Linked DNA regions of Homo sapiens: regions 1, 3 and 4 are each linked to region 2. The links come from fine-mapping of genetic effects on gene expression. A gene starts in region 2. Each other region holds a variant in brackets. All regions are shown on one strand. Distances are between the middles of the regions.

What was found.
Region 1: its variant is fine-mapped to the expression of DOK3 in whole blood (INTERVAL, PIP above 0.99).
Region 3: its variant is fine-mapped to the expression of DOK3 in whole blood (INTERVAL, PIP 0.93).
Region 4: its variant is fine-mapped to the expression of DOK3 in whole blood (TOPMed, PIP above 0.99).

What each region holds. Positions count from the first base shown.
Region 1 is chr5:177,675,796-177,680,989 of GRCh38, forward strand. All of the region lies in intron 1 of LOC107986489 (a long non-coding RNA gene), which reads left to right. Among named protein-coding and RNA genes, the nearest start is that of B4GALT7, 78 kb to the left of the region's middle. The variant A/G (reference allele first, on the strand shown) is at 1,987.
Region 2 is chr5:177,507,106-177,512,266 of GRCh38, forward strand. DOK3 (docking protein 3) reads right to left here and starts at 2,721. Exons shown (of 6, transcript NM_001308236.3): 1 at 2,653-2,721; 2 at 2,370-2,552; 3 at 1,132-1,437. The coding sequence starts at 2,435. DDX41 (DEAD-box helicase 41) reads right to left here. Exons shown (of 17, transcript NM_016222.4): 16 at 4,991-5,101; 17 at 4,472-4,822. The coding sequence ends at 4,686. RefSeq lists enhancers at 977-1,086, 1,107-1,156, 2,977-3,126 and a silencer at 2,707-2,846.
Region 3 is chr5:178,076,342-178,081,535 of GRCh38, forward strand. LOC124901147 (a long non-coding RNA gene) reads right to left here and starts at 1,929. Exons shown (of 2, transcript XR_007059076.1): 1 at 1,666-1,929. The variant CTTT/C (reference allele first, on the strand shown) is at 2,688.
Region 4 is chr5:177,603,228-177,608,227 of GRCh38, forward strand. It overlaps B4GALT7 (beta-1,4-galactosyltransferase 7), which reads left to right. Exons shown (of 6, transcript NM_007255.3): 2 at 952-1,314; 3 at 4,075-4,300. Among named protein-coding and RNA genes, the nearest start is that of B4GALT7, 5.6 kb to the left of the region's middle. RefSeq lists an enhancer at 3,395-3,998. The variant C/A (reference allele first, on the strand shown) is at 2,766.

The DNA of each region.
Region 1 (5,194 bases), 170 kb after region 2:
ATGGTTTCTTTTAAAATAATTTTTAATGAAAAATTCATACATGAGAAAATGTGTGAAGATGCAAATCAAAACCACATTGAGATCCTACTTTATACCCATTTAGGATGGCTATTTTTTTAAAAAACAGAAAACAAATTTGGGAAGGATATGGAGAAACTGGAACCACTGTGCGTTGCTGGTAGGAATGTAAAATGGAGAAGCAGCTGTGAAAAATAGTTTGGCAGTTTCTCAAAAAGTTAGATGTAGAATTACCGTATGATTCAACAATTCTACTCCTAGATATTTGCCCAGAAAAACTGAAAACGGGACTCAAACAGGTACTCGTCTGCAAATCTTCACAGCAGCATTATTTCTAATAGCCAAAAGGTAGAAACAGGTCTTCCTCAGCAGATGAATGGATTAAAAAAAAGTGGTATATACATATAATAGAATAATATATTCAGCCATGAAAAGGAATTAAATTCTGATAACATGTCACATGGATGAACCTTGAGAATATTATGCTAAGTGAAATAAGCCAGATACAAAAGGACAAATATACAATTCCATGTTTATGAAGTACCTAGAATAGGCAAATTCACAGAGACAGATAATGGAATAATGGTTTTTCAGGGGTTGGGGAAGGGGAGAATGGGGAGTTATTGTTTAATGTGTATTGAGTTTCAGCTTGGGATGACAAAGAGTTCTGGAAATGGATGGTGGTGATGGTTGCACAACTTTGTGAATGAACTAATGCCGCCAAATTGTATATTTAAAATGGTTATAATGGTAAATTTTGTGTTACGTCTATTTTACCAAAATAGAACACACTATGTGCATGGTTTTCTTTTATAAAATTTAAAAGCATTACAGACAAGGCTAAAGGCCCCTTTTGCCACCTCCCCCATCCAGATTCGCAATTCCCCCTTTTCAGTGCTGTTATGTTTATTCCTCTAGAGCTGCTTCTGTGTATTTACCTGAATTCATGTGTACTTACTAAAATTAAATACATTTTTAGCTTTATCGAATAACATATCTGCTCTGGTATAGAGTTGTTTATTTTTGAGACGAAGTCTCACTCTATCACCCAGGCTGCAGTGCAGTGGCACGATCTTGGCTCACCACAACCTCCGCCTCCTGGGTTCAAGCGATTCTCCTGCCTCAGCCTCCCGAGTAGCTGGGAGTAGCTGGGCATGCACGCCACCATGCCCGGCTAATTTTTGTATTTTTTTTTTTCAGTAGAGACGGGGTTTCACTGTGTTGACCAGTCTGGTCTTGAACTCCTGACCTCGTGATCCGCCTGCCTTGGCCTCCCAAAGTGCTGGGATTACAGGTGTGAGCCACCGCACGCAGCCTGCTATTGAGATTTGAAACCATCATTTGTGGTAAAAACATTCTAAATACAAAGCTTCCTGCCTTATTAATGGGGATTTTTTTTTTTTTGGTGGTTATTCATCTTTAAAATATTTTTTCTTTTTTCTATTTTTCATTACATGGCAGGGTCAGTGCCTGCAGACCCGCTTTTGTTTATGCTAAAGCCAGCTAGCTCAAGTTTCTCCCTGCTCTAGGGAACATTCTGTCCCTTCTGTGGGATTCCAGGTCTAATCTTCCAGTTTCAGGGCACTCTTAGCTTTTCCACTGGATTGCTTCAGCAGGCGGCCTCTCAGTTTACATAACTTTATTTAAATCATTTTCTTATACTTTCTCCCTGCTTCCTTCCCATCTTCAAATTTGCTGTGATATCAAGGCCTTTGTAAAAATTTTGTTTCATTCCCTATGTTTGAAGAATCCTCATTTGAGAAAGTTAAAGCAATTGAGAAAGGTTACGAAGCAGAATGTGTAACTCCATCATATTTTGATAACATCTTTCCAGATATCTCTAAATGGCCGATACTCACATGTGCAAAATTTTTACATAAATGGGATCAGACTATGCATATTGCATCACAGTTGGTTTTCTTAAATTAATATGTCCTTATGGTTTTCTGTGTCAGTGAACATGGATCT[A/G]TAGTATCCATATTGTCTATTGGCTCATATTTTAAAATAGCGTATTTGCTTTTATATAGAAAACCACAAAGAAGCAAGCAAAAAAATATACCACGTTCTCCCATTCTTGGTATCCCTCATTGAACAGTTTGTAAAACTAAAAGAAACATCTTGTGAGTTCAGTAAATTCTTGCTACCAAAACTTACAAAATGAAAAGTGAAAGTTGAAAGCCACCCTCTCTTTCCTAGTTCTTCCTCCTAACACTAAATACCTTTATTAGTTTCTTGTAAATCCTTCAAAACATACTTACTTACTACACATACTTATCTGTTCTAACACACCATAAAAATCACACTGTACAGTTATTTACTTTGCCTTTTGTAATTTATCATGGGCATTATTTCCTAACTGCAGGGTAAACATATCTGTCACTTTTTAACAGCTTACATTAAAAAGTCATTTGTTAGGCTGTGCCATAATTTATTTAATTGGTTTTCTATCATGGATATTTTGGTTGTTTCTAGGGTTTTTGTGTATTTTTGTTATTACTATTACCAATTATGTTACAACAACATCTTTGAGCTTCTAAGAAGTCTTGCCAGCATATCTGCAGGGAAATTCTTTTTTTTTTTTTTGAGACGGAGTCTCATTCTGTCGCCCAGGCTGGAGTGCAGTGGCACCATCTTGGCTCATTGCAAGCTCTGCCTCCCGAGCTCACACCATTCTCCTGCCTCAGCCTCCCGAGTAGCTGGGATTACAGGCGCCCGCCACCACGCCCGGCTAATTTTTTTTGGTATTTTTAGTAGAGACAGGCTTTCATCCTGTTAGCCAGGATGGTCTCGATCTCCTGACCTCGTGATCTGCCTGCCTTGGCCTCCCGAAGTGCTGGGATTACAGGCGTAAGCCACTGCACCTGACCCGGGAAATTCTTAAGCATGGGGGACTGGGTTAGAAGATGTGTGTTTTACATATTGATAGAAATTCCCAAATTGTCATCCAGAAAGGTTGCACCAAATAACGTATCAACAAAAGCACTTGGGAGTGCTTATTTCCCCAAATTCTTCAAGCACTGGTTATCAGACTTTTTAGTTGTTGCCAATCCAATAATTTAAGGTTGGTATCTTGTCCTGATTGCCTTTACTTCATTATGAGTGAAGTTATGACACTTTTAAAGTGCTCATTGGCTATTTGTAGCTTTTTCTTTAAACTGTGTTCATATACGTTGACTTTTTTCTCCTATGCTGTTCATCTTTTTCAGTAACAGTGAAATCTATATGAATAGCTAACATTTACAAAGTATTACATTGCTTGCATATTCAACAAGACACCAAATAATGAACATTTAGGATGTTTACAGTATTATCTTGCTACTTTAAACATTCTTGCACATACATCTTTGTACTTTGGACCAGATATCTATCTGTTTAAGTTAAATTTCTAGAAGTGGAATTGCTGATTTAAAGTTGAATTATTTGTCCAAATGTTCCAAAGAGCATTGTGTGATAGGGGAATGGTCCAAGTGAAGAAGTAGGAAAGAAAGGAACTAAACAGTTACTCCCAATTGCAAGGCCAGTCAGCTCTAAATTAGAGTTTAGTTAGCAGGCTAATTGATGATATCATCCTACCTGCTTTCATCAATAAGCTTTGTAAAATCCTAACTCTCTTTCTCTATTTGAGTGCCCAGACCTCCTGGGAGTCTGCAAATTCTAGGGTTAAAAAAAAAAAAAGAAAAAGTAATTTTGTAATTTTCAGGTGAGCAATAGTATTAAAAATTATAAGCACATTCTGAATCATTTTATGACCGTACAACTCCAACATTGGCTTTATATTTCTGTTTATAGTTGCCTGCATTGGTGCATAATGTTTTTGTCTTTTTTTTTTGAGACGGATCTTGCTCTGTCCCCCAGGCTGGAGTGCAGTGGCACCATCTCGGCTCACTGCAAGCTCCGCCTCCCCGGTTCACGCCATTCTCCTGTCTCAGCCTCCCAAGTAGCTGGGACTGCAGGTGCTCGCCACCACGCCTGGCTAATTTTTTGTATTTTTAGCAGAGACAGGGTTTTACCGTGTTAGCCAGGATGGTCTCGATCTCCTGACCTCGTGATCCGCCTGCCTTGGCCTCCCAAAGTGCTGGGATTACAGGCGTTAGCCACCGCGCCTGGCCAGGTGCATAATGTTTTAAGGCACTATGGTAGTTCATGAATTTTAACTAAGTGGAGGGAGGTAGTGGGAGAATTGAGCCAGTTTACTCATGGGGCATGTGGACTCCGGGGCAAGCAGAGCTCAAAAGAACCTGGGCAAAAGCAATCCTTTAAGTTAGAAGAATGTAGGAAATGATTTGAGGGAGGATGAGTTGAGCAAATCCTGTCTTTGTACAACTTGTTCATTAGCAGCAAGTGTAGTAGGAAACAATGACATTGTTTTACATTTCTGATTTGAGTAATAATTAGATTAGGACACCAATTCAAGCCAAATTGCATTAATGACCACAATGTCCACCTTAGTTTTACAGGAGTTATTGGGTAACTGCATAAAACCAGGCATTCCAGGATTGTTTGGAGGTGGTTTTGACCAAGTATGAGGTCTACCTTGAGGTAGCAAAGAACTGAAGTTATTAACACCATTTTGTACAGAATAATTATCTGAACATTTTCTGCATTCATGTTATTGACAAAATCAATAGACAAAAGTTGGTGTGCTCTCATGTTTTGTTCTAATATGCATTTAATTAATAATGATATATAAAATGCTATTTTTTCTTTGTTCCAATGTTACTTTCTTGTGAAAAAAGACATCCAAGACAAAAATCTACTACTCACATTAAGTTGTCCTTTGTCCTAGTTACCATTACATATTCAGTTTTACATATTTTAACAATATTGTGGTTAGACTTTGGATTTATACATTTCACTTAGCATACTGTGAATATTTTCCAATTTTGCAAATCTGTTTGTTATCTCCCTTTATGCTCTTCTTATACATTCTTTGTTGACCACCAGCATGACCACCATCACCAGGCAAATGTTGTTTGCCCAGGTATGTAAGCCTGTACATATTTCTCCATAATCATGTAAGCCTCTCCAAAGATATACAGACACATGTACACCACATAGAAATATATAAAATATATGTTAGAGATTGTGAATTTGTCATTTGCTTTTACTAAAGTGAGATCATAAACTATATTTCTTAACCACTTTTTTTTTGCTTAATTCATCCGGACAGCCACCA
Region 2 (5,161 bases):
TTCCTCCAGCTCCTGCCAACACTCATCTGATTTCTATCCCAATGGAGTTACCTTGTCTGTACATTTCTTTCTTTCTTCTTTTCTTTTTTTTTTTTGAGACAGGGTCTCACTATGTTGCCCAGGCTGATCTTGAATTCCTAGGCTCAAGCAATCCTCCTACCTCAGCCTCCCAAAGTGCTAAGATTACAGGCAAGAGCTACTGTGCCAGGCGTTTGTTTGTTTTTATGGCTGAGTAGTATTCCATCTTGCGGACGGACCACGTTTTGCTTATCCATTTGTCAGCTGATGGCCATGTAGGCTGTTTCCACCTTCTGGTGGCTGTGAGTAGTGCTGCTATGGACGTTCATGTCCATGTGGGTTTTTTTTTAAGATAGGGTCTTGCTCTGTCTCCCGGGCTGGAGTGAAGTGGCACGATTACAGCTCACTGCAGCCTCGACCTCTGGGGCTCATGCGATCCTCCTGCCTCACATGTACATGTTTTGTTTGAACACCTGTTCAAGTTCTCTTGGGCACACACCTAGGAGTGGACCTGTGGGCCACATGGTAACTCTGTTTACCTCTTTGAAGAACCCCCAGGCTCACTTCCTTTTGACCCATCACAGACCTTTTGGGGCTTTACAAACATGTCCGGCTTAAACCCTCCAAAGCCTTCGCCTCTCACTCAGAACAAAACCACACACATGGCCTAGGGCATTTCAGCCGCTCTCCTAAGCTCTGTGAGTTGGCTTCCTCCTGCACTCCTTTCCTTCCAGCCACGTCGCCTTCTTTCTGCCCTTAAACACCCCACACTGTCCGGCCTCGGGGCCTCTGCCCACGGGACTCCCTCTGTTCACAACTCCCCAGGCTGCCCCTGTCCTCAGACCTTTGCCCAGTGGGTTCCTGTCATTCAGGGCCCTCCTCTGAGAGGCCTTCCCTGGCCACCCTGCCCGTCGCTCCCTCACTTCCTCCTGCTCCCCTGGCGGTCCATTTTCTCCATGGCACGCACGGCCCTCTGAGAGTCATTATAGATTTACTTTTCCCAGGCTTGTAGGTGCTCGGTGGAGCTTGCTGGGTGATGGGATGTGAGCGTGGAGGTGGACAAGTCGGGGGCAGGTGCCCCAGCCCAATCGCCCCCCTGCTCGCCGCACTCACCGGGAAGGCCAGCTGGCAGATGGGGCCCATCCAGGCCTGGCGGTGCTGAGCAGCCAGTAGATGGCTTCGCTCGGTGGTGGTGAGCAGGAAGGCACCGGTGTCCCGGGGGCAGCTCTCGCCGTCAGCCGGCAGCACGGACACACAGTCAGCCAGGCGGATGACCCGTCGCTCCCCTCGCCGGCCAGGCCCTGCCGACCTGTCACCCGCTGCTCCCAGGCCACCATCCCGGACCTCCCAGCTCTCCAGCCGTGCCACGCCTGATGGGCCTCCTGCATACAGCAGAGCCCACACCTTCCGCCAGCACTTCTGCGGGAGGGGAGCGGGAGGGTGAAGACCCTTGGGTGGCAGATTGTCCGTGCCACTTGGCTCAGCACAAGCTGCTCGGCAAACGCTCCCAGCCAGGAGCGGGCCTCTGCTCCCCAGTTTCTCAGGGAGCCAGGTAAGGAGGCCTTGGCTATGCTTGGGATTGGTCAGCCCTGGGTTCAAATCCCAGCCCGCTCTTTCCTAACTGTGACCTCCACAAGCATCAATGTCGTCTCTCAAAAGGCCATGAGAACTCGAGCTGGGACTGCTACTGGGTCATGTTTGTAAAGCATCCAGTGGCCGGGCAGACCACCAGACACTGCCATTATATTGGTTCCCTCTCACCCCCAAAAAGGGGCACTTGGGCCACAGGCCAAGAGCTGGGGTGGGAGGGAGGCCTCTGCCTCAAGCTGTTAAGGAAGGAAACATGCAAATAGCTTCGAGCAAAGGAAACTGACGGTTTATCTGCCTGGGCAGCAGCTGCAGCTGAGCTGCGGGGGTGTGGGGCTGCTGCCGAGGAGAGGTGACCCCCTGCCTCCTTGCTCCCAGGACAGTGCCGCTGCAGGGAGGGGCTCCACCCTTGAGGCCTCCTCCAGCTCAGCCCCTCACCCTATTTAGGGCCCTCGGTGGCACTATTTCATGGGTCAGAGGCTGTGAAGCTCTTCCCTGCTGGGAGGTTTGAGCCTTCGACCCTCTCCCACTCCTGTATTTCCCATCTCTCCCGGAGGCAGGGTCTGGCAGAGCCTGCTCAGCCCCTGCCGTCTCAGGCTGACACCCGCACTCCATTCCACTCCCCATACCTGGGTGGGATCCTCCACCCTGACTCCCTTCCCAAGTCTCCCAGGTCTGCCTGGGCTGTCCGAGGCAGGGGCAGAGGCTGCATTCTCCACCCACTGTTGGTCCTTGGCAGCTGCCTGGCAGCCAGGGGTCCCCACCTTGCCAAACTTGACATGCTGCTGGTAGAGGATGCCATCCTTGATAGGGGTCTCCAGAGGGTCCATGGTCACGGCCAGGAGCAGGGCCGCCGCTTCAAGACCTGGGGAGACTGATGACAGGCTGGACGGGAACTCCTCACACTTCCCCTTCTGGCCACTTCCCGTCCCTCCGTCTAGAGACAGCTGCAGGCCGGGGGGAGGGGAGCCTGTCTTCAGCTCAGGGGCTGGGGGCAGCATGTATTTCCTCCCTGGGGTTCTGGCTGCCCAAGGTGCCCACACCTACCTGGAGGGAGCCCCCGGCCACCTGAAGGCAGCCTTCTCACGCACCTGGTTCAGCTGGGCACGCGCGTCTGATCGCAGTCTGGCTCCCCGAGTCATGAGTTCCCGCCCCTCCCCCGTCCCGCCCCGGGCAGCTGCGCACCCTGGGCCTGACACTCCCTGGCCCTGCCTCCACCCAGGACCCTTCTCTAGCCAACTCCTGGCTTTCCCACTCGGCGTCCTGGTTTGAGCGCCTCACCCCATCTTGCTGCTTTTCTTTCTCCCTGAAATCTCTCTCGTGTTCACCTGCTCCTCTCCACCTCACGAGCCACTGAACATCACCAGCCTTTGGCATCCCCCCAGGGGCCACTGCCCCACTGGGCCTCCATGCAGCACTCTCCACAACCCAAGACCAACCTGTCTCTCCCCTTCCTGGGGTGCAGCCCAGGCTCCTCAGCCCAACACTCAGGGACCTGTGTGTTCTGGCCTGCATCTCCCCCAGGCCAGCCCCTCCAGGGCCCCCTCACCACTGTGCTGCCTGGGGCGGTTGGCCACCTCTTCCTCCTGGAGGCCTCCCTTGACCACTCCACGCTGTCCGAGAGCTCAAAGGCCCTCACGGTATACACTCACGCTGGGCATCCAGTCCACATGGGACCCACAGCCCTGAATGGCCCCAACCACGTGAGTGTGGGTGGCAGGTCCCAGGGGGCCCCGGAGAGGTCACATGTTCATTTAAAGCTTTGCTTCCTGCTGGGGGCGCCTTTTGTTGGCTTGCCTAGCAAGATGCCAATAGCGGGGCTGTGTGTATACCTTTATTCTGGAACAGCCTCAGGTCATTCAGCACCACCTCTGGGAGAGAACATGGAAGAGGATAAGGAATGCCATTTGGGAATGCACTTGGCCAGGAAATATGTCCTGAAGGCCTCCTGGCACCCAGCTCTGTGCCCACTGTGGCCCAAGCAGCCCTAAGCTCCGTCCACCTCAGACGCCACATCCTTTGCGTTCTCATCGCCATTTCAACAGTGAGGAAATCGGTGCTCAGAAAAATTAAGTAACTTGCCCAATGCCACATATCAAGTGACAAATATGGCTTGAGCAACCGCTGTCTCACTGGAATGAGCATGTGGCCATACATGCAAAGTGCCTGGCTCAGAGGAAGTGTGGCCGCCTGTGCCGTCCCTGCCTACCTCTCACCAGATGCTGAGATCCTGCCTCATCTGCTAGCGGTCTTGTGACTGCCGTCCACGTTTCTGCGTGTGCGTCTTTCTCTCCCCTCGCCTGACGGCTTCCCAGGCAGCCATCTCCCTGGCCCATCTAGGTCCTCACAGCTCAGCAGAGCTGGGCACAGAGCAGGCTTAGGGAGAGCTTGTGGCCTAAATGGCAGTTCTATGACATCTGCTGCCTCCTCAGTCAACGGAATGGAGGGCTCCCTCCAGGTGGCTGGCACAGGCAGGCAGTGGGTGGGGGTCCTGAGGCAAGAAGCAGCCTCCCAAGGGGCTTCAGGAGAAGTCCCTGAAACATCACAGCCCTGACAGGAAGAGTGGGCCTGAGAGCTATGACAGCTGGCCAGGGAGACCAGAGAATCCAAGCACTTCTCCTTGGCCCGCCAATGTGGTCCCTCCTTGAGTCATAAATTCAGACAACCCAGTGGAGAGACCCAGAGTCCCCAGAGGCGGGCACCAGCTCGGTGGCTCCTTCCACAGCCAAGTACCAGCAGGCCAGGTGTTGGCAGTGCTAGTGGGAGATGCTGGGGCCTTGCCTCAGAGGGGCTCCAGAGGTCAGAGGTGACGTCTGTCCAGGAACCAGGGGGCGGATGAGGTGAAACACAGAGGCAGGGCCAGGGCTGGGCTAGAGGTTTGGGCTTTAATGGCAGCTGGGGTAAAAGGAAACAAAAACAGTAATTCTGAAGAGCACAGGGAACAGGCAGCCAGGACCAGCCTGGCCCATCCCAGGCCAGCTGAGCTGAAATGCTGATTCTGTCCAGGGGGCTGCTGTATGTGTAGACTGGTGGCAGTCTTGGGGACTGAGGCCTCTTGGAGAGAAGGGAAGACTGTCGGCTCAGAAGTCCATGGAGCTGTGGGCCAGGTAGTCCTTGCGACCGATGTTGCTGACCTGCTTGGTCTGCATAGCCTCGAGTTTGGGGCAGTCAGTGATCCGATGACCCAGGCCCCCGCAGAAGGCACAGCCGCGCTCTCCTGGGGGAATGGGGACAGGGGTCAGCCAAGTCAAGGACCAGGATCCATGCCCTGGACTTCGGGCCCCCCGTTAGGCACCCTCGGTCCACCGGTTTCACGTTTCTGACTTCCAGCACCCCTCCTTGCCACCTGCCGGCTGGGGACTCGGGGATCCCGCTCTGCAGTCACCTCCAATGTCCAGCATGGACTCATCCCCGCAATGCAGCACCTGCAGCACGGGCGGCACCTTCTGCTTGGCTTCTAGCAGCAGCGCTTTGAGGTCCATCAGCACTGACTCATCTGGGGGAGGAGTGGGGAAGCATCAGGGCCCATCCTGGGCTCTGTGGCCAGAACCTGGGT
Region 3 (5,194 bases), 570 kb after region 2:
GCCTTGGGGCTGAGAGGCGGGGGCTGTTTCCAGCCCAGCTGAATCCCACATGCTGGGGGGTCATTTGCCAGGTATCTACTTGTTAAAATGCTTGCTTTGCTATGAGCCATCCCAGCGAGCTCAGACAAATAACACTGTTCTTCAAAATCACAAAAATATATGTAGCCTGCAAAACACACACAATCATTTATTTCAGAAATACACCACCATGCTGGGTGCAGCGGCTCATGCCTGTAATCCCAGCACTTTGGGAGGCCGAGATGGGCGGTTCACTTGAGCCCAGGAGTTCAAGACCAGCCTGGACAAAAAAGCAAGACCCTGTCTCTACAAAAATTTTTAAAAATTAGCCAGGCATGGTGGTGCACACCTGGGTTAGTCCCAGCTACTCTGAAGGCTGAGGCACAAGGATCACTTGAGCCCGGGAAGTCAAGGCTGCAGTGAGTCAAGATTGTGCCACTGCACTCCAGCCTGGGCAACAGAGTGAGCCCTTGTCAAAATAAAGAGGCTGGGCGTGGTGGCTCATGACTGTAATCCCACCACGTTGGGAGGCTGAGGTCAGAGGATCACTTGAGCCCAGGAGTTTCAGATTGGGAGGCTGAGGTGGGAGGATCACTTGAGCCCGGGAGTTCCAGATTAGACAAGATCTCGCTCTTTCACCCAGGCTGGAGTGCAGTGGTGCGATTTCAGCTCATTGCAGCCTTGACCTCCCAGGCTCAGGCAATTCTCCCACCTCAGCCTCCCGAGTAGCTGGGACTACATGTGTATGCCACTACACCTGGCTAACTTTTTATTTTCATTTTTTGGTAGAGATGGGGGTCTTGCTTTGTTGCCCAGTCTGGTCTTGAATTGCTGGCCTCAAGCAATCTTCCTGCTTTGGCCTTGCTGAGATTACAGGCATGAGTCACCATACCTAGCATCATTTTCTTTTCTTTTTTTTTTTTTTTTTTTTTTTGAGACAGGGTCTTGCTCTGTCACCCAGGCTGGAGTGCAGTGGCACAATCTTGGCTCACTGCAACCTCCGCCTCCCAGGTTGGATCGATTCTTGTCCCTCAGTCTCCCTAGTAGCTAGGATTACAGATGTGTGCCACCATGCCTGGCTAATTTTTGTATTTTTAATAGAGATGAGGTTTCACCATGATGGCCAGGCTGGTTTTGAACTCCCGGCCTCAAGTGATCTGCCTGCCTCAGCCTCCCAAAATGCTGGGACTCCAGGTGTGAGTCACCGCTCCCAGCTTCTTTTCTATTTGTATTCTATTTCAGGTTGTTGTTTTTTCCTTTTTTGGTTTAACTGCACTTTTTGAGTATGTAAGATAATGTTCATGATTCGAAAGTCAAAACCATATCAAAAAGTGAGCTCCGAGCATCTCCCTTTCCCATGGCAGACGCGCATTTGAAGGAGCTGCCTCCAGGCCTCCCAACTCCACTGCTCCGGCCTCCAGCCTGGCCCTCTTGGACACAGAGCTTGGACACCCAGGTTCCTGTCAGGACTGAAGTGGCCCAGAGCTGGCAGGGCCTCTAGAGGTCATCCACCATGCTTTTCCCTCCAGCAGACAGAAAGTGGATGTCAGACTTCGGCCACCAGGGCAGGAGCAGAACTCAGGCGTGGCACTTCACAGTTCCAGAACCCTAGGGTCTCTCAGGCTGGAGTGGGGGTGGGGCACTCACCTTTATCCAGCTGTCTCTGCTAGTCAAGCAAAAGCACTGGGCAGGCTGTTTTCTCTAAATCCTCCTGACAACACTGGGAGGTGCTCCAAGGAAGACACAGACACGTGGAAAGCTTCAAAGACGTAACTGGTCTGACCCAAACTCCTTGCTTTTCTGACACTGTATCACAAAAAAATCTTCTCCTGCCATTCCCACCAATCAATTTCATCCTAAGTTCTTCGCTTACACCAGCAGCAGCATCTTCCAGGCTTCCAGGCCAGCAGTGGAGGAGTCATTTTTAGCTCTTCCTTCTCCTTCACCCTGGCATCCCATTTGTGGGCACAGAGCCCGGCCCTAGAGGGCTGGGAGAAACCGCAGAGGGCATCCAGTTCAGCTGCCCACGTAACACTTGGATTTTCTGTAAACATTTGTGGTGAAGCTGCTGCCCAGGCTCAGCCTAAACACGGCCCCCACCTCTGTGCGAGGGAGCTCGCCACTCCCTGACATGACTGTTGCATCTTGAAACGGTTATGATGTTCAAAAGTCTGCCTCAGTTTGAGAGTAAATCTGCCTCCCTGTTGCCTCCTCTCCTCGCTCCCTGCACGCACGTCCACTGGTTCTAGTTTTTTGCGGGGGTGGTATAGAACCGATCTGACCTCTTCTCTGTCTTAGCCCTTTGAATGAGAAAGCCGTGATCAAGCCCCCAGCGGGTAAATATTCCCCATTGCTCCAGCTGGTCCTCATATGACTAGTTTCAAATCACTAGACAGTCTAGTCCCTTCTCCAATCATGCGTCAGTTCATCTAAACTGGGTGTTGCAAACTCAATGCCTAAGGGGGCCAAGCAAGCGGCATGGGTGAGTGAGACGGGTGGAGCGTAGCAATACGGAGTGGTGGGGACTGCAGCCAAGAGGTGTTTCAGCCAATTGCTGCCATGCAGAAGTGAGGCCCTGCATCCCCAGATCCTCTCGTTTTCGAATAGGAATCAGTATAATTTGGGTTTGGATTTGAAATGTTGATTTTTTGAGTTGGTTATTAGTTTTT[CTTT/C]TTTTTTTTTTTTTTCTTTTTTTTGAGACAGAGTCTCACTCTGTCACCCAGGCTGGAGTGCAGTGGTGCGATCTCGGCTCACTGCAACCTCCACCTCCCAGGTTCAAGCGATTCTCCTGCCTCAGCCTCCCACGTAGCTGGGACTACAGGCACGTGCCACCATGCCCACCTAATTTTTTGTATTTTTAGTAGAGACGGGGTTTCACCATGTTAGCCAGGATGGTCTCAATTAATTTTTCAAACACAACACACTATATGAATCAACACTGTGAAGCAAACAAAAACCTATGGGCACCATCCCAGCACTTTGGGAGGCCGAGGTGGGCAGATCACGAGGTCAGGAGATCGAGACCATCCTGGCTAACACGGTGAAACCCCGTCTCTACTCAAAATACAAAAAAATTAGCCAGGCATGATGGTGGGTTCCTGTAGTCCCAGCTACTCGGGAGGCTGAGGCAGGAGAATGGATGAACCCGGGAGGCGGAGCTTGCAGTGAGCCGAAATTGTGTCACTGCACTCCAGCCTGGGCGACAGAGCAAGACTCCATCTCAAAAACAAACAACAAAACAAAACAAAACAAAACAAACCTATGGGCACCAGTGTGCAACCTCTGGTTTACTGGCATCTTAAAATGTGCTACATAAAATTTGCTGGGTGCTGGCCGGGACAGTGGCTCATGCCTGTCATCCCAACACTTTGGGAGGCCAAGGCAGGCGGATTGCTTGAGTCCAGGAGCTTGAGACCAGCCTGGGCAACATGGCAAAACCCCATCTCTATTAAAAATACAAAAATTAGCCGGGTGTGGTGGCACTTGTCTGTAGTCCCAGCTACTTGGGAGGCTGAGGTGGGAGAATCACCTAAGCCAGGGAGGTTGAGGCTGCAGTGAGCAGAGATCACACCACTGCACACCTGCCTGGGCAACCAGAGTGAGACCCTGTCTCAAAAAGATAAATAAATAAAATTTGCTGGGTGTGGTCGCGTTGCCTGTGGTCACAGCTACTTGGGAGGCTGGGGTGGGAGGACAGATTGAGCACAGGACTTCCAAACCAACCCGCAGTGCCCTGACCAGCCAGCTGTCTCCCTCTCCCACCCCTCTTCCTCACCGAAGCCCAGGGCACCCTCATCACCCTGTTGTCAGCCCCTGCCCTAGGGACTTACTGTGGCCAGACCTCAATGCCAGGCCTGGCCCCTCCTGGAGAGCACGCAGGCCAGGGCCTTGTCTCATGCACCCATTGGCTTCTCCCCTCCTTTCTCACCCACTCCTCCACACTTTCGCTCAAGCCAAGCCTGCCTCAAGGTGCCTTCTTCCTCCCCTGCCCGCATCTTACGTCCTCTCTGAGGCCTTCCCTGGTGGCTAAGCCCACAGTGGTGTCCCTCACGTGCTTGGCCAGTACTACGTGTAAAATGGGGAGAATGACAGACCAAACTCAAAGAGTGTCTGAGGAATGAATGAGGGGACTCGGGTCAAGTGCTTGGAGTAGAAGCTGGCACACAGCAGTGCTTGATGAACATCAGAGCCATGCATTATTATTAATATCACTCTTAATATCCCATTTCATGCTGAATCCACACGCTGCCTGGTGCTCTCTTTCACATTTGCTAATCACATCTCTCCAATTGAGTGAGGAAGCAGAAAGGACCCTGGAGGCAGAGACTGGTGGACCTGGATCTGAATTCCATGTTTCCCATGTGTTACCCCAGGGAAGTCACATAACCTTTCTTGGCCTCTGTTTTTGAGTCTGTAAAATGGAGCTAATGAGTCCCCATCCTCAGGGCTGTGATAAGGATCTGATGAGGCAATGTCTGCGAAAGCTCTAAGTAAACTGGGAAGAAATGCTGTGAGAACGACCGTTGCCGGGGAGGAAATTCCAGGCCAGCCATGGTGTTGCTGGAGTCAAGGGCCAGGTGGTTCTGCTTTTGATCAGATCTAGAATGTCCACAAATGGCTAGTCTGTGCCAGACTTTTGAAGTATGAAGTACACTGTAAAGTCACCTCTAAACCTCTCCACTTGTCCCCTCCAGTCTGTCCCCGGCTGCTCTCTGCACCAACTGGCCCTTTTCATTCTCTCCTGGTATCCCAGCCTCCTGACCTCCCTTCCCAGACTCTGCCCACTTAAGTCAATCTCTGCACTGTGGCCAGCATGATCTACCTTCCTGCAGCCCATTCACTCATTCGCTCACTCATACATTACACAATTGTTTATTCAGTTATTACCAGGTGTTCTGGAAATAAAACAGACCAAAATCCCTGCCCTGATGGGTTTTACATTCTAGCAAAATACAGACTTATTATGTAACCTCTGTGCTTTAAAAACTCAACTGGTTTTCCAATTATGCTGGAGTCAACAAAAGTCTTGGCAGGGCGCGGTGGCTCACGCCTGTAATCCCGGCACTTTGGGAGGCTGAGGTGGTCAGATCACGAGGTCAGGAGATCGAGACCATCCTGGTCAACATGGTGAAACCCCGTCTCCACTAAACATACGAAAAGTAGCTGGGTGTGGTGG
Region 4 (5,000 bases), 96 kb after region 2:
ATTGTGAAGTGGATTCCTTTGCAGATTACTTTGGGGAGAAGGTAGGGGGAGTACAGAGGAAGCTTCTCCCTTCATGGATTCCTCAGCTCCTGTCTCAGCATACTCAGGAACTTCCAGAGGAGCGGCAAAGGAATCTGGTGAATTCTGTTTCTTTGTATTTGCTAACCAAAAGGCTGTCTCCTGGCATCACCCCAGTGTCTGTGATGTTCAGCTGTTTTTCCAGTTTCTGAAATCAGTGCCTGTGCTGTACCCAGCCCTCATCTTTCTTTCCCTCTCCATCTCCCATCTTTTATCATGAGCTGCCTCTTGGACTAAAGGTTTGAGGCTCGTTCAGTGAACCGCCACTGACAGTTTGGGCCTTGCATTGCTTCGGGGGGCACGTCTGATCTTCCCAGAGTAAACATTGGTCATTTTACCTGGACTAATGCCAGCACACACCCGTGTCTGGGTGGCCTTTCTGGTCATTCTTGGAAGCAGGATGGAGCCACGGTTTCTGCTGGGGTGGATCTGTAGGGGAGCGGGTTTGGAAAGCAGTGGGTTGCATCTCTAAGGTGGGGACTCCTGTCATTGGCTCAGGACATTGAGCCACTATCGTGGGGAGGAGCACCTGCAAGTGACAGGAGCCTCCTCATCCTTGCCCTGAGCAGCTCTGACCAGGACTCAGTCACAGAAAGTAAGAGAGCATTGAGGAGCCGGGGCAGCTCTGTGAACTGGGAGTGGTTCAGAGGGCTTCCCGAGAGCGGGTGGCATGGGTTGGGTCTAGAGAGGCAAGCAGGATTCGGATGCATGGTAGTGGCATGAGCAGAAACATTAAAGTTGCTTCTGTACTAATTCCCAGGTGCTTGGGGTAGACGAGTTATGTGCAGCCTCCTCGTGGGGAGGCCAGAGAACGGGTCTGTCACAGGGCCAGCCCTGCCCCGCCCTCCTGACCCTGTCCCGCGCTTGCTCCAGGTCCGGGTTGCTCTCCGGCGGCCTCCCTCGGAAGTGTTCCGTCTTCCACCTGTTCGTGGCCTGCCTCTCGCTGGGCTTCTTCTCCCTACTCTGGCTGCAGCTCAGCTGCTCTGGGGACGTGGCCCGGGCAGTCAGGGGACAAGGGCAGGAGACCTCGGGCCCTCCCCGTGCCTGCCCCCCAGAGCCGCCCCCTGAGCACTGGGAAGAAGACGCATCCTGGGGCCCCCACCGCCTGGCAGTGCTGGTGCCCTTCCGCGAACGCTTCGAGGAGCTCCTGGTCTTCGTGCCCCACATGCGCCGCTTCCTGAGCAGGAAGAAGATCCGGCACCACATCTACGTGCTCAACCAGGTGGACCACTTCAGGTAGCGCCCGCCCCCACCCTCTCCCCTCGGCACCCCTGCCCGGGCTCAGGCTTCTCAGGCCCTGTGAGAGGCCACCTGGGGCAGGGGCAGGAGGGCGGGAGGTGGCAGACCCCTCTCACTGGGTGTGACAGGAACCTTTGGAGAGGGCCCTGATCTAATTTCCATTTTGAAAAGCTCACTGTGGCTGCCGTATGTGGAATGGATTATACCAGGGCAAGAGGAGAAGCAGGGAGAGCAGTTAGGTGGTCACTGCTGTGGTCTGCGGTGACAGTGGCTTGATGGCCTGGTGGGGGGTGGGTAGAGAGAGGTGCTGTGGAGGAAGCCCAGACAGGACTCCCTGGGGATTGGCCCGGGGATTAGGGAAAGGGAGGGTCAAGGCCACGGCTTTAAAGTTGCCCACAGTCTGGCGTTATCCTAAAATCCCTGCCCTTACCAAAAAGTGCTCCCTTCCATGACCACAGCCTGAGATCTCACCCACCAGCCCCCACCTCCTTTCCCTCTAGGTAACTCCCACTGGAAGATGGATTCTCAGCCCCACCAGCCTGATCTTCCCACCTTTTCAAGTCCCCTTGATCCAGATCCCCAGACCCCCCCCTTTTCCCTGCCACCCTTCTTGTCTTTACTTCCTCCTTACCCAACCTGGAGTCCAAGGTCCATCATTAAAACCCTCCCTGGCATACTCCCTCAAGCCTCTGGTCCCTTGCTGCTGGCGTAATCCCAGCCTGATTTACTCCAGCTCTCTGCTCCACACCTGTGCCTGGGCACTGGAGGGTATGGAGAGGAAAGACAACACGTGAGGCGGCCATGCTGCTGTCCCCATGCCGATGATGCCCCTGCCAGGAAGGCCCTCTGCCCTGCTGGGAGCCTCACTTTCCTCTGGTCTGTCCACTGCAGCCTTTAAAACTATCTGTTCTCCTCATTCATCCCTCGTCCTCACTCATAGCTGACGACTTTGCTTCCAATTTCAGAAAACAGAATGAAATGGAAGAGAACTTTCCCCAGTTCCCTCCACAACTCACCTGCCAGCCTCTGTGCACAGGGACTCAAGGCTGTTCCAGCTTCTGTCCGGGCTGACTCCCACCATCCCCATCCTTCAGTATTTCCCCCCACCCCACAGTTGGGCCCTTCCTCTCCCTCTCGATCAGCGTTCCTCTCCTGGAGCATACCCATGAGCACACACACCCTGAAGTGGCTCCTCTCTCAAAGGAAAAAGACTCCCTGGATCCCACATCCCTCGAGGCTGTCACCCTTCTCTGCTTTCTGGCAGACCTCCTTCCCTTTCTCTCCCCTCGTCTCTCTTGAACCCCTTCCGCTCAGACTCCTGCACCCACCATGGCACAGAGCAGCTCTCACTGAGGTCACCAGCCACCTCCTCCACTCTGTTGGTCCAGAGGCCATGCTGGGCCCTCATCCTGTGGACCTGCCAGCAGCATCTTCTTTCGTAAAATGCC[C/A]CTGCTTGGGGCAGCACCCTCTGGTCCTCCCTCTGCACTGGCTGGGCCTCTGTGTCTGTGGGTTCTGCTCATCTCCCCGAGCTCTCACCATCGGGGCTTCTCTGGACTCGGTGCTTCGGCAGCCCCCCTTTTTTAACTCCAGGTGTTCCTTGGGGCATCTCATGTCATCTCCAGCATTAAACCACGTCTCTGATGATTCCTGAGGCTGTTTCCTGGAGTTCTCTCCTAAACTCCAGGCTCAACAGCCCAGCCATCTACACAGTCCCTCCACGTGGTGGCCTCAGAGCTACTGCAAGCTTCCATGATCACAGCTGAATTGCTGGTGGCCTGCCCTGCCCCAAACCTGTAGCTCTGTCCTCTTCTCCATGGGAATGGAAGCTCTTTGCTCTCATTGCTCAAGCCCAAAAGCCCGGGGGTCATCCTCAGCTGCTCCTTCTCTGTCATACACTGCGTCCTATTCGTCAGCAAAATCCATCTAGAATCTGCCCGCTTCTCGCTGTTGCCACTGCCACCTCCTGAGCTAGGCCACCTTCATCTTTTGGTCTCTCACCTAAATCATTGCCATAGTCTCCCAGCTGGTCTCCCTGCTTTCACCCCTGCTCTGACAGTCTCTTCCAGCACAACAGCTAGGGCGGTCCTGTCCAGGCATAAGTCACAGCACGCCTCTACCCTGCTCAGAGCCTCCATGGCACCCATCTTACCCGAGTCAAAGCCCCGTCCTTCAGTGGCCCTTGGGCCTTGTGCAGTCACTGTGTCACCCCCAACATCCCCACCTCTGCCCTCGCCCTGCCCAGCTGCCCGTTGGTCTGCTCCTGCCTCCTGCCGTGGCAGTGCCATCTCTCCTATGCAGAGCCCTAGGCACCCACTGCCCTGTGGGTCATCTCTTCAGGCCTTCAGGTTTCTGTCACTCAGTTCCCCTGGCCCTCCCTGACGGCCCCACCGAGGACAAGAGCCACCTCCACCCCCAGCAAGATCGCCCTCCTTGCCTGCTTTGCTTTTCCCCCCAGCACGAACCACTGCTGGCCACGCTTTGTGTTTGCTTGTTTCTGTTTCCTTCTATTGGAATCTCAGTTCCTTGAGAACAGGGCCTGGTTTTTCACTGCTGTACCTCCCGTGCTTTGAATGGTTTCTGGCACATAGTGGGTGCTTAGTAAATATGCGATGAGTGGAGGGACTGCCCCACAGGCTGAGTGAAGTCAGTGCTGGGCCAGAGGGCAGCATAGGCACCATGGGGACCCCCGGGTGGGTGCTGAGCCCCAGGCAGTGAGCCCGTGTGCTGCCCCTGCCCAGCCTTGCCCACCCTGCACAGGTTCAACCGGGCAGCGCTCATCAACGTGGGCTTCCTGGAGAGCAGCAACAGCACGGACTACATTGCCATGCACGACGTTGACCTGCTCCCTCTCAACGAGGAGCTGGACTATGGCTTTCCTGAGGCTGGGCCCTTCCACGTGGCCTCCCCGGAGCTCCACCCTCTCTACCACTACAAGACCTATGTCGGCGGCATCCTGCTGCTCTCCAAGCAGCACTACCGGCTGGTGAGGCCCGGACAGCCTGCTCTGCTCAGAGCCGGGAGCTCCCTCCAGGCTGCGGGTGGTGGGAAGGATGGGGCAGTGCCTCTGGGGCCCAGCAGATGGAGCCCTGCCCTGGCCTAGCAGGAGAACTTGGGAGCAGCCAGAGTGCGAAGAGCAGGCGAGCCAGTCAGCCGCAGCAGCAGAACTGCTTGCACGGGGGCTTCAGAAACCTGGGTGGTTAGTGGCCCTTAACACTGAAGAGTGTAGGGGCGGTTCAGGTGTACCTTGCCCACCTCTCAGACAGTGTCACCAGGACCCTGTTTCTCTGTGCATCTCCCAGCTCTCCTTCCCTGCACTGGGTTTATTGGCAAGGTGGTGGTTGTTACTGCAGTCTGTATCCATCTAGGCCCCGGGCTGGTGGGAGATGGGGCCCTTCCCTTGTAGCTCAGGCAGGAGTCCCGCAGTGAGCTGCACTGGCTCTTGATTGGCCGGCTTGAGTGCTGAGCCCACCCCTCAGCCAGTCACTGGCTGGTGGACGGGCAGGCAGGAAGAAGCACTTGTGGCTCAGGCCTGGGTGTCCTCCTCTCCAGGCCATGGCAGGGGCCAGCTTTATGTAAATGAAGCCCCTGAGCCAGGTGCAAGAATGGGTGTCTGTCATGGAACCCTGCTACCCCTCTCACACACACAGGAAGAGATGAGGGCAGGGCCACCAGGAGAAAGGGGA